3 linked regions of the Homo sapiens genome follow. The protein of the gene in region 2 purifies or fractionates together with the protein of the main gene of each other region. This does not show direct contact. Each region holds a gene or a part of one and is shown on either strand. Other genes may lie near its edges. The genes, in order: PPP2R1B, TRIM35 and KDM5C.

Region 1 (3,749 bases), on a different chromosome or scaffold from region 2:
ATCTGTTATAAATAACTTGTACAAATATTGTTTTCATTTTTATCCCTCAACTTTCTGTTATAGTAAGGCTTTGAAGGCATCATTAAAATGTTTTTTTTTTCTTTTTTACTTAATTTTAAAATTTTCATTTCCTTTATAGAAACTCTGCATTCTAGCCAAGGTAATTACTTTGCTGTTTACTCATAGTACAAAGTCATTTCTATCTTTATGACTTTGACATGCCATTCCAGGCAAAGGGAGCAGCTCTTTCTTTTTTTTTTTTTCCTTTTTGTTTTTTGAGACAGAGTGTCACTCTGTCGCCCAGACTGGAGTGCAGTGGTGCAGTCTCGGCTCACTGCAAGCTCCGCCTGCTGGGTTCACGCCATTCGCCTGCCTCAGCCTCCCGAGTAGCTGGGACTACAGGCACCCGCCACCACGCCTGGCTAATTTTTTTTGTATTTTTAGTAGAGATGGGGTTTCACCGTGTTAGCTAGGATGGTTTCCCTCTCCTGACCTCGTGATCCGCCTGCCTCAGCCTCCCAGAGTGCTGGTATTACAGACGTGAGCCACTGGGCCCGGCCGGGAGCAGCTCTTTCAAGATATAAATACACGGCCAGGCGCAGTGGCTCGCGCTTGTAATCCCAGCACCCAGCACTTTGGGAGGCCGAGGCAGGTGGATCATTTGAGGTCAGGAGTTTGAAACCAGGCTGGCCAACGTGGTGAAACTCTGTCTCTACTAAAAATACAAAAATTAGCTGGGCGTGGTGGCTCCTGCCTGTAATCCCAGCTACTCGGGAGGCTGAGGCAGGAGAATCACTTGAGCCTGGGAGGCGGATGTTGGAATGAGCGGAGATTGTGCCACTGCACTCCAATCTGGGTGACAGAGTGAGACCCTGCCTCAAAAAAAAAAAAAAAAAGAAAAAGATGTCAAGACGTGAAACTATATAAGGTGTGGCAGTCTTGGTGGTGTTAATTTTTTTAAACACCTGCACCACCCCACAGCAGTTCCCCATGGGTCTCAGTAAATGTCTGAATTACAGAAATTTTGTTCCTTTAGGATTCAGTGCGCCTCCTTGCTGTGGAAGCTTGTGTCAGTATTGCCCAGTTATTGTCTCAGGATGACCTTGAGACTTTGGTGATGCCTACACTTCGACAAGCAGCAGAAGATAAATCTTGGCGCGTTCGCTATATGGTGGCTGACAGATTTTCAGAGGTAAAGTGATCATTTTTAAGTACTAAGGAAATAAACCTGAAAACACATAGATTTGCTGTTGTACCCAAAGTTTCTGAATTAATTCTTTTCAATGGGAAGTGCTGTGGCAAAAATATGTATTTACAGATTGCACAATTTTGTTTTGTTCTTGTTAATTCTTTTGTTAGTATACATTAAAACCCGTTCAAATTCTTTTATAGCTCCAGAAAGCCATGGGTCCTAAAATCACCCTAAATGACCTCATCCCCGCCTTTCAGAACCTACTTAAAGACTGTGAAGCTGAAGTCCGGGCAGCTGCTGCCCACAAAGTAAAAGGTTAAGGAGTTCAATTTATGTTGGAACATGTGTCATTCATTTTGGTGCATTTTTTTGTTAGTCAATTTTGCATGTTTTTTGTTCTAGAATATGTTTTTAAAATACATAGGGATGTTTTTAGTGTGTGGAAATGTTACATTGTCACTTAAAGATAGTCTCTTTATATTTAAAACCAAGAAATCATTTTGTCTTGTTTTTGTAAAAAAAAAAATGCCTTTCAGGTTGGATTGGTGTGATATGCAATGGCATAGAGAGTTCACGAAAAAGTTTATTTAGAACAAGAGCTGTTTTCCTTATTTGCTTAAACATATAATTTAATTGAAATTATTGATAAACCTGGTTAAATGTCCTCATTTGGCTCTTTGTAAATGGCCCTGTGAAAGCATTCTTTTTTTCTATTTATCTTTTAGAACTTGGTGAGAACTTGCCCATTGAAGATAGAGAGACCATAATTATGAATCAAATTCTGCCTTATATAAAGGTAAACCTGACTTTATTTTGTTTCACTCTCTTTTATATGAAGGTAAACCTTAATCTCATTATTTTTGTTTGTTTGTTTACCTTAAAGCTCTTTGAGTTTAAAGGTTGACAGGGAATGAATGGGGAAGATGTGTTAATGTGCAACATTGTTATTCATCACTTATTAGCCCATTGTAATTGTAAACTGCTCTTTGGTGCATAGGTTTATGTTACCTAACAAGTAGTCTGAGGAAACATTATCAACTAATCAGTATTGAAATAGTGCTGTCTTTAAATTCCTTGGGGTCAGGCATGGTGGTACATGCCTGTAATCCAAGCACTTTGGGACGCTGAGGTGGGAGGATTTCTTGAGCCCAGGAGTTTGAGACCAGCCTGGGCAACATAGTGAGACCCCATTGCTACAAAAAATACAAAAATTAGTTGAGCCTGGTGGCATGCACCTGTAGTACCAGCTACTTGGGAGTCTGAGGTGGGAGGATTGCTTGAGCCCAGGAGGTTGAGATGGCAGTGAGCTATGATCATGCCACTGTACTCCAGCCTAGGTGACAGGGTGAGACACTGTCTCAAAAAAAAAAAAATTAGGCCAGGCGTGGTGGCTCACACCTGTAATCCCAGCGCTTTGAGAGGCCAAGGTAAGAGGATTGCATGAACCCAGGAGTTCAAGACCAGCCCTGGCAATGTAGTAAGAACCTGTCTCTGCAAAAAATGAAAAAAATTAGCCAGGCCTGGTGGTGCATGTCTGTAGACCCAGCTACTCTGGAGGCTGAAGTGCTTGAGCCTGGGAGGGTGAGGCTGCAGTGAGCCAAGGTCATGCCACTGCACTCCAGCCTGGGCAACAGAGCAAGACTCTGTTTCCCAGAATAATGGTATGGAAGTTTCTGTTGTCTTGTAATAAAGGCTTTTAATTTCGATTTTATTTTAGGAATTAGTATCCGATACCAATCAACATGTCAAATCGGCTCTAGCTTCTGTAATTATGGGATTGTCTACTATTTTGGGCAAAGAAAATACCATTGAACATCTTCTACCTCTTTTCTTAGCTCAGTTAAAGGATGAGGTGGGTCTTGCTTTATGTTCTGTTGCCTTTGATAGTAATTTGATTTTATTTGATTTTGGTTTAGGGTTTCATTAAAATAGAACCCCCAAAAAGAAAATGGATAAAAAAATCATAACTTATTTTAAACCAATGACACCTGTGATTTTGGGTATGGGGTTATAGGTTCCTCAGAAAGTGGGCAAAAGTACCCATTAGAGTAAACCTAGAAATATCTGTTTATCATCTTTACCTGATTTTTGCTTTATACTCCCTGGTTTCTTTAAAGCTAATGTGTCTTTGTTTAAAAAGTTTCATTTATTTAAGTTTAAATATAGTATCAAAAATTATAATGATACCTAATATTTACTGAGTAATTACTACATGGCAAGCATGAGCCTTAGTGCTTTGCATGTATTTTTACATGCAATTCTCACAACAATCCTGTGAGGTAGGTCTTATTATTATCCCTTTTTGTTTGTTTGTTTGTTTGTTTTGTTTTTTGAGACGGAGTCTTGCTCTGTCGCCCAGGCTGGAGTGCAGTGGCGCAATCTCTGCTCACTGCAAGCTCCGCCTCCTGAGTTGATGCCATTCTCTTGCCTCAGCCTCCTGAGTAGCTGGGACTACAGGCGCCTGCCACAGCACCCAGCTAATTTTTTGTATTTTTAGTAGAGACGGGGTTTCACTGTGGTCTCGATCTCCTGACCTCGTGATCTGCCCGTCTCGGCC
Region 2 (3,749 bases):
TTAATGCTCACAAAAACGTATTTTCAGGTCCTGTGTTTCCTGTTACTGCGTAATAAATGTGGTGGTTTAAAATAGCACAAGTTTGTTCTCTTATGGTTCTGGAGGTTGGAAGTCCTAAAATCGAGGTGTCTGCAGGGCTACATTCCTTTTGGAGGCTCCAGGGAGAATTTATTTCCTTGCCTTCTCCAGCTTGCAGAGGCCCCTTCTTCCAGCTCTGAAGTGTGTCATTCCGTTCTGCATCTGTTGTCACTTTGACTTCTTTGACCAGTTCTACTACCTCCCTCTCATAAGGACCCTGTGATGACATTGGGCCCACCCAGGTAATCCAGGATAACCTCCCCACAGCAAGATCCTTAATTTAATCATCTGCACAGTCCCTTTTGCCATACAAGATTCTGGGGATTAGAATGGGGACATCTTTTCGGGGAAATAATTATTCAGCTTGCTACAGTTAGGTGCTATTATCCCCATTTTATAGACAATTATAGAATCATAGAGAGGGTAAGAAACTTGTCCAAAGTCACAGAGCAAGTAGCTCTAAAGATCACCTGGAGCCTTGTTCAGTTCACACACTGGTCCTGGACTTTGAGAGAGGTTTCTCTCATCTCAGACTTCAGCGGGCAGCTGACTGTGTGTTAGGGGTTGGAGTGGCTGTTGACCATTGTCAGGGCTGGCAGAAGGTACTGGTTGTGTGCCAGTACTGTGTCCAGGACAGGACCGGACAGTCCTAGACCTTGCCTTTGTGGGCATGGTTGTATCATCTCACTAATAATTACATAGTTTCAGCTCAACATTCCTGTGAAGGACAGTACAGGATGTGGTGGGAGATTGTAAGGGGGAGGCTGCTCTTGTTTGGTGGGGTGTGGGAAGGAGTCTCCAAGGAAGTGATTTCGCTGAGAGGAGCTGATTGAGGGGCGGCGAGCAGTGTGTGTGTGTGGCGGGGGTGTGGCGGCGGGGCACAGCGTGGGGGTGTGCAGTGACTGAGAGATGGTTCACGTGGGGATGAGGAACTGCAGGACAGATCCCACAGGACACAGAGGGCCCTGCTTAGGAGCTGGGATTTTTATCGTAGGTGCAGTGGCGCATGATGGAAGGACTGATGAGATTTGGGAGCCTGGCATCATGTTTACAGCAGAGCTGTAGCAAGGAACAGTGCTTGGAAGGACCTTCAGAAATCCTAGTCTGGCGTTTCTCAAACTTGAACAAGTATGCATTCTTCTTAAAGGAAAAAATAGTCTAGCCAGTGAGAGTTAAATTATGTTATTATTTACATGCATACAAATGCAAACCTGGTATAAATAGCACTTGCTCATGCTACATATAAGCAATAAAACAAAAGGAAGTGAACAGACTGAATACAAAACTATAATCAATAACATTCCACTTAAAATATTAATTCTAAAGTTTTATTTTGCTGGAACAAAATCTCTACTCCTGGCCAAGATACTTCTGATTCTCCCATTACTCTGTTCCAAGTGACTACTTAATCCGCCCAAATTTCTCTGAAGAGCTCTGGAGCTTTCTTGTTACGGGATTGGCCTTCATTTGGGTCCGGCACATTCTTTACCTGCTATGTGTATTTCTCTTCTTTCCTTATCAGGACAAGACGATGAAAGTCATGTCTTGATATCAAGTAAGCTGTTAAGAAAATATGAATGGTGGCCGGGTGTGGTGGCTCATGCCTGTAATCCCAGCACTTTGGGAGGCCGAGGCAGGCAGATCACGAGGTCAGGAGTTCGAGACCAGCCTGGCCAGTATGGTGAAACCCCATCTCTACTAAAAATGCAAAAATTAACCAGGCATGGTGGCAGGTACCTGTAGTCCCAGCTACTTGGGAGGCTGAGGCAGGAGAATCGCTTAAACCCGGGAGATGGAGGTTGCAGTGAGCCGAGATCGTGCCACTGCCCTCCAGCCTGTACGACAGAGCAAGACACTGTCTCAAAAAAAAAAAAAAGAAAGAAAAAAAGAAAATACGAATGCTGATGATGAAGTTGTGAACTGAAAGCATGTGTCAGCGCTGTTTATGTCGTGGCTTGGAGTAGGATTGTCTTAGGTTTGGTTTAGGTTGCCATTAAATGAAAACATCCTCAGACACAGACCGTGCGTCATTCTATTGTGATGGAATGGTTACATCTTGTGAGGAGGTGGTTACATCTAAGTAATGAGAAGTGGATCAAGGCCAGTGTGTTTCATGCCTGTAATCCCAGTGCTTGGGGAGGCTGAGGCAGGAGGATTGCTTGAGGCCAGTAGTTCAAGATCCTGCACCAAAGAAGAAAAAAATTAGCCGGGTGTGGTGGCACATACCTGTAGTCCCAGCTACTCGAGGGGCTGAGATGGGAGGATTGCTTGAGGCCAGGCATTCGAGGGTGCAGTGAGCTATGACTGGGCCACTGCATCCAGCCTGGGCAACAGTGTGAGACCCTGTATCTTACATAAATAAATAAATAAAGTTCTAGGATCAGAACTCAGGTTTCCTGCCTCCCAGTCCAGCACTCTCCAGCTTGCATCTTCTACAGCAGCCCTGTGCTGAGCTGCCTTGTGCAGACCCTTGTCTTATCCATCTTGCAGGACTGGCATGATGACCATTCTTTGCCACCAGCCTCTCCCTGTCCCAGCTCCAGCCCTCTCTCCCCTTCTGGCGTCAACATCTTAGAGTCCATCTGGCTGGATCTAACCCAAGGGTACTCTCGATACCTCTTAAGCCACATTCCAGGTCTTCCCCCTTCCAATGCTTTTCCCCATTTCCTAACCACTCACCCCCATCCTGATCCCCAGCTTCTAGGTGAGGACTTACCAGCTCTTTGGTTGCACCAGAGGACATTGTTGCTTGCTTGCTTGTCCAGGCCTGTGCCCAGTGGTATTGGGAGTGGGGGGTGTCTCACTAGACCCTGCACACTGAGGCTCCTGAGTGATGGCCTCCAGCAGTGGGCTGCATGGCAGACACTTGCTTTGGAAGGAGGTCTGAACACAAAGGGGAAAGACAGATCTGGGAGACTGATTTGGAGTTGCATAAGAAAGCTCCATGCATTTTTACTGTTCATTTAAGAAACCTGGACCATATCCAGCAGGACAGTTAGGTTACCTGGCATGTAGGTGGCACTTAAGAGCTATGCCGAATGCACAGCATGTGCCTGCCACTCTCATGTAAGCATCTTATAGGGATTGATTTGTGGAGTCCTCACAGCAGTCCTTTGAGCTTGGTAGTATTTTTTATCCCTCTTATCCAGATGAGGAAATGGAGGTGCAGAGAAGTGAAGGAACATGTTCAAGATCACCTGCTACTAGGTAGAGGTGCTGGGATTTGAACCTGGTCGGCCAGGTGCCAGAACTCTTGGCTGCTACATCAATCTGCCTGAAAACAAATCGTGAAATTTGGGAGACTGTAGAGACTTCTCTGCTTTCATTTTTAAGGTGAGGAGCCTGATAGCCGAAGAGAGAAGGAACTTTTTACCAACTCACCAGTGGATAGTGACAAAGACAAGGCTCCAAACCAGCTCTCCTAACCTTCAGTCCAGGAGGCAAGGTATATAGCAGAAAAAACACAGGCATTCCATGTACTCATTGACTGGGCAGGTGGTTAACTGAACATCTACTTTGTGCAGGGACTTGGACATGCAGGGGACAAAACAAAGTCTCTCACCTTGCAGAGCAAGCATTCCTTCTGCAGAAGTGTACCGAGCACCACTATGCAAGGTAGAGAGGACCTGGAGGTTAAGACCTGCCCTCAGGAAAGAGAAGCTATTACCCTG
Region 3 (3,749 bases), on a different chromosome or scaffold from region 2:
GGCCCATTTCTAACAGACAAGTCACTAGACCCTTGCCTCACCCCTCCCACCTGTTCTTTTCTCACACGTGTGTCCTGTCTTGCCTGAACACTTTAAGCTTTTGAAAGGAGCCAAGCATGGCCTGCTGCTCAGGTCCCCTGGTCCCCTTGATCCCTCATCAGCACTCCAAGCGTCCTCACCTTGACATCCCCAATCTGGTGCATGGCGCAAGGCAGGTTGTTCATCTGGTCCAGAAAGGCCCGGAGCTCAGTCAGGGTCATCTGTAGACCAGCCACCCTGTGGGGGCTATGAAGTATCACATGTGAGGTTTCAGGTCCAAACTCAGTGCCTTCCCTCCATGTCTATGCTAAGACTGAACACCTTTCCTCACTACACCTGTCCACCTTGATCTCGCATATTTCAAATTTGCCCCAATTGCCCAGGTTAGAGGGAAGGTTTTAAATTATAGAGCATGTTCATATTATGAGGGGAAAGAATTAGAAACTAATGGGTTGTAATAAGAGCTACACTTTGCAATCCATCCTCTACTGTGAACTCTAAAGCTGTGTTAGCAGGGATCAGGTCTATACATCTTTGTCCTGTTCTTACCCGTAAGCCTCCCACAACTCTTCCCTGCCCACAAAACCCCTCAGCCTCTCTCTCAGGCCACTTCCAGGTACTGATAAAAAATAAACACTTCTAGCTTTCTTATCACAGAGGCTCTCCTCTCCTTTTTAGGTGGCCTGGTCTCCTTGTCCCCCCCAACACCTTCCAGGCCATCTCACACTCTTGTGCCTGGCAGCTTCCTGCTGATGTCCATTCTGCCAAATGGTATTCACAGTCTACCCCTTGCAGCACTTTTCCTCGGTGCTGGATCCTCAGCACCTTATGTGTGCCCTAACTCCTCACGCTGTCATACCCAGCTTCCTGGCCGCTGACCAGTCCCAGAGCTCGGGACACGCAAGCCTCTGCCTCACTCAGGCAGTTCTTTAGTTGCTGCAGCAGCTCACTATTAGGAAACCTCCGCTCACGGGCTTCAGACTCTAGTGCCCTCAGTTCTTCAAGGCCTGGAAGAAAAATGAGGGCAGCAAAGAGTAGGCAGTATTGAATAGAGGCAGAGGAAGGGGGTCAGAGTACAGAAGAAAGGGAATAGAACTTGCCTGTGGAGTCCCTCCATCCCCCCCATCACTCACTGCGCTTCCGCCCATCCTCCACCTCCAGGGCCACTCGCACTTTGTTGGCCCAGGTGTCAAAGGACTCAGCCCGAACCTTCAGCTTATGCAGCATGGCAGGAAGCTCATCCAAGGTATACCGATACCTGGAGGAAGAGGGCAGGCAAGAGCATGTCTGGCCCAGCTCTCCATCCTCCTTCTTGCCCCACTTCCTCCAGAAAGGCCCATGCTCACCGCAGGTACTGCCGGCTACTGGAGCACTTGCAGAGATCATTGATGTGGGAAAGGCAGACAAGGCCGTCTGGGCAGTCGTAGCAGGCCAGGGCTGACAGGAAACACGTAGTCTTGCACTTGATACACTGGCGCTCATCATCTGGGAGCAGCTCGAAAGCCTCTCGCTCAGCCTCTGTGATACCCTAAGGGCATTTAACCTATGCGTTATATATAACCAGAACCAGGTAGCAAAATCCTCCATCTCAGCCACCACCGACCCCTACTTTAGATTCAAATCTATGCTGAGGGTCATGGGGTTTAAGAGGCCAAACCCCAGGGAGCATACCTGCCCTTTGTAAAGTCTAGACTCTCAAAGCTTGGGGAATCAGATAAACCAGGGCAAGATCAGTGTGCGCTGAGTCAGATAATTTTATAGAGGAAGAAAAATCAGGTAAGATCCAGATCAGCAGAAAGGGTCTTGTGGGTGAGAAGTGAGGAAAGTGGTGGACCAAGATACCAGAGAGGTGGCAATGAGTGCAAGTGGCCAAGGGACAGGCCTGGCTAGTTATGTGTACTGGGGAACAATATCGGCTTCCAGTTACTCAGAGCCCACTGTGTTCCAGGCACCACGCTGGCCACTTAGTAGGCAGGAGATACTTGTGCACATATATAACTTAGAGAAATTCAACCGTATGTGCTTGTGTTCAGGGTTTAAAGAGATATAATAATTTTCTCCCAACAATATGGTTTCCAAACCTAATCCAATGACTTCATCTGTTGCTCAGATAAAGAAAAAGCAATCCATTTCAAAAATGAAGGAAAAGCTGGCTATATTGGAGTAATCGAGAGACAACCCAGTGTGTATATCTAATGGGCAATTTTAGGGATTTTAATGGGAAATGTCAACTCTTAACAGTTTTTGTCTTACATACCAACTTTAACACCTAATCTCTGCATAAGTTATGAGCCCAAATCCCACTCTGCCACTTATATGCTGTGTGATCATGAGTAAATCATTTAACGTCTCTGGGTCTGTTTCATTATCTAGTAAGATGGAGATAAACAGTATCATCCTTGTTGGGTTGTTATGAGGATTAACAAAAATAAAGCAGCTATGGAATCAGACAAGTATCTCAGCACTTAGATTCAGTGTTCATCAAATATTTACTGTTATTAGCTCTAATTTTCAGATAAGAATATATATTCCACAGGCCTATCTCATTTTACTAAGGCAGAAACTAAGTCTCAGGGTCAGTAACTTGCCAAACTGAGTTAATTTTGACTCTAAAGCCAGAGAATATTCTAAGGATGAAGTCTCTAGGGTTTTTTTGGACTACAGACTCCTGAGAATTGGATGTAAACTATAAGTCCTCTTCCCAGAAACATACTTAAATACACATACAATCTCTTACAGGATTCCAAGACTATGGTGTCCAGAATGCTTCTCTGAGGTAAGGGCCAAGTGTGAAGAATTCTGAATGTCAAGATGAGAAGGTCTATTCTCCCCACCTTGCTTTGGCTCCTTCCCACAGCTTGGCACAGCCACACGGCCATCATTTAATAACAGTACTGAACAGAGTGAGAAAATGATGCCTGGAAAAGCCCAGGGACTCAACAACTTACACCACGACTGAGAGGCCCCAGACTTCCAACACTACTGTAGCTATAGTTCTCCCTATAGCCCACACTCACAGGAAAGCTATAAATGAGCTTTAAAATAAGAAAGTATTACCCTAGATAGGCAGCAAGGGATCCCACAGAACCAGCACTCCTTTGTAATCTTATGAAAGACTCTCACAAAGTCAATTCCCTAACTGGGCAAGTGTGAAATTTGAAGATGATGGCTGAAACTACACGAGTGGACTTTAGAGCTCTGTAGCAGCTTCCACTCAGCTACACACACAACTGACACAAGCTTACAAGAAATCAATTAAAGCAGGACCACCTTCAGCTTGGTAATATTATTGCCCTAGCTGGAGTTAATAAACCATCTGCATGTAATAAAATGGCAATTCCTGAGAAACATTCCAAATTTCAATCAGTTTCTTCATGTATTAACATTACCAATAATAGCAGCTGCAACATTGCAAAGGCAATGTTAGAGAGATGGCTTTCATATAAATCACCTTACTCTAACCTTACATCTTGCAAGTTAGGTATTTATTCCCACTTTAGAGTAGGAAAGTGAGATATGAAAGATCAAGTAACTTGATACAGTCACCTAGATAATCAGCAGTGAGGTTTCATATGCCAGTCTATTTTGCTAGGTCATGTAAATAATGATAAATAGCTGCTATACCAGTACCTGCCATGGGTCAGTCACTAAGCAAACATTATCTTTAATACAATCAACTATCCAAAAAGATAAGCATTATCATAATCCCA

What was found.
Region 1: the proteins of TRIM35 (region 2) and PPP2R1B purify together in Homo sapiens (affinity purification with mass spectrometry; 2 studies listed by BioGRID and IntAct, with this or other methods). This does not show direct contact.
Region 3: the proteins of TRIM35 (region 2) and KDM5C purify together in Homo sapiens (affinity purification with mass spectrometry; 2 studies listed by BioGRID and IntAct, with this or other methods). This does not show direct contact.

The regions. Positions count from the first base shown.
Region 1 is NC_000011.10:111,752,738-111,756,486, reverse strand, and holds part of PPP2R1B (serine/threonine-protein phosphatase 2A 65 kDa regulatory subunit A beta isoform), read left to right. Parts: intron 1-1,036; coding exon 1,037-1,192; intron 1,193-1,392; coding exon 1,393-1,507; intron 1,508-1,917; coding exon 1,918-1,988; intron 1,989-2,909; coding exon 2,910-3,044; intron 3,045-3,749. UniProt on the Homo sapiens protein: The PR65 subunit of protein phosphatase 2A serves as a scaffolding molecule to coordinate the assembly of the catalytic subunit and a variable regulatory B subunit.
Region 2 is NC_000008.11:27,304,535-27,308,283, reverse strand, and holds part of TRIM35 (E3 ubiquitin-protein ligase TRIM35), read left to right. Parts: intron 1-3,440; exon of another isoform or gene 3,441-3,523; intron 3,524-3,749. UniProt on the Homo sapiens protein: E3 ubiquitin-protein ligase that participates in multiple biological processes including cell death, glucose metabolism, and in particular, the innate immune response.
Region 3 is NC_000023.11:53,197,592-53,201,340, forward strand, and holds part of KDM5C (lysine-specific demethylase 5C), read right to left. Parts: intron 1,568-3,749; coding exon 1,386-1,567; intron 1,355-1,385; exon of another isoform or gene 1,298-1,354; coding exon 1,173-1,297; intron 1,047-1,172; coding exon 899-1,046; intron 286-898; coding exon 180-285; intron 1-179. UniProt on the Homo sapiens protein: Histone demethylase that specifically demethylates 'Lys-4' of histone H3, thereby playing a central role in histone code. Does not demethylate histone H3 'Lys-9', H3 'Lys-27', H3 'Lys-36', H3 'Lys-79' or H4 'Lys-20'.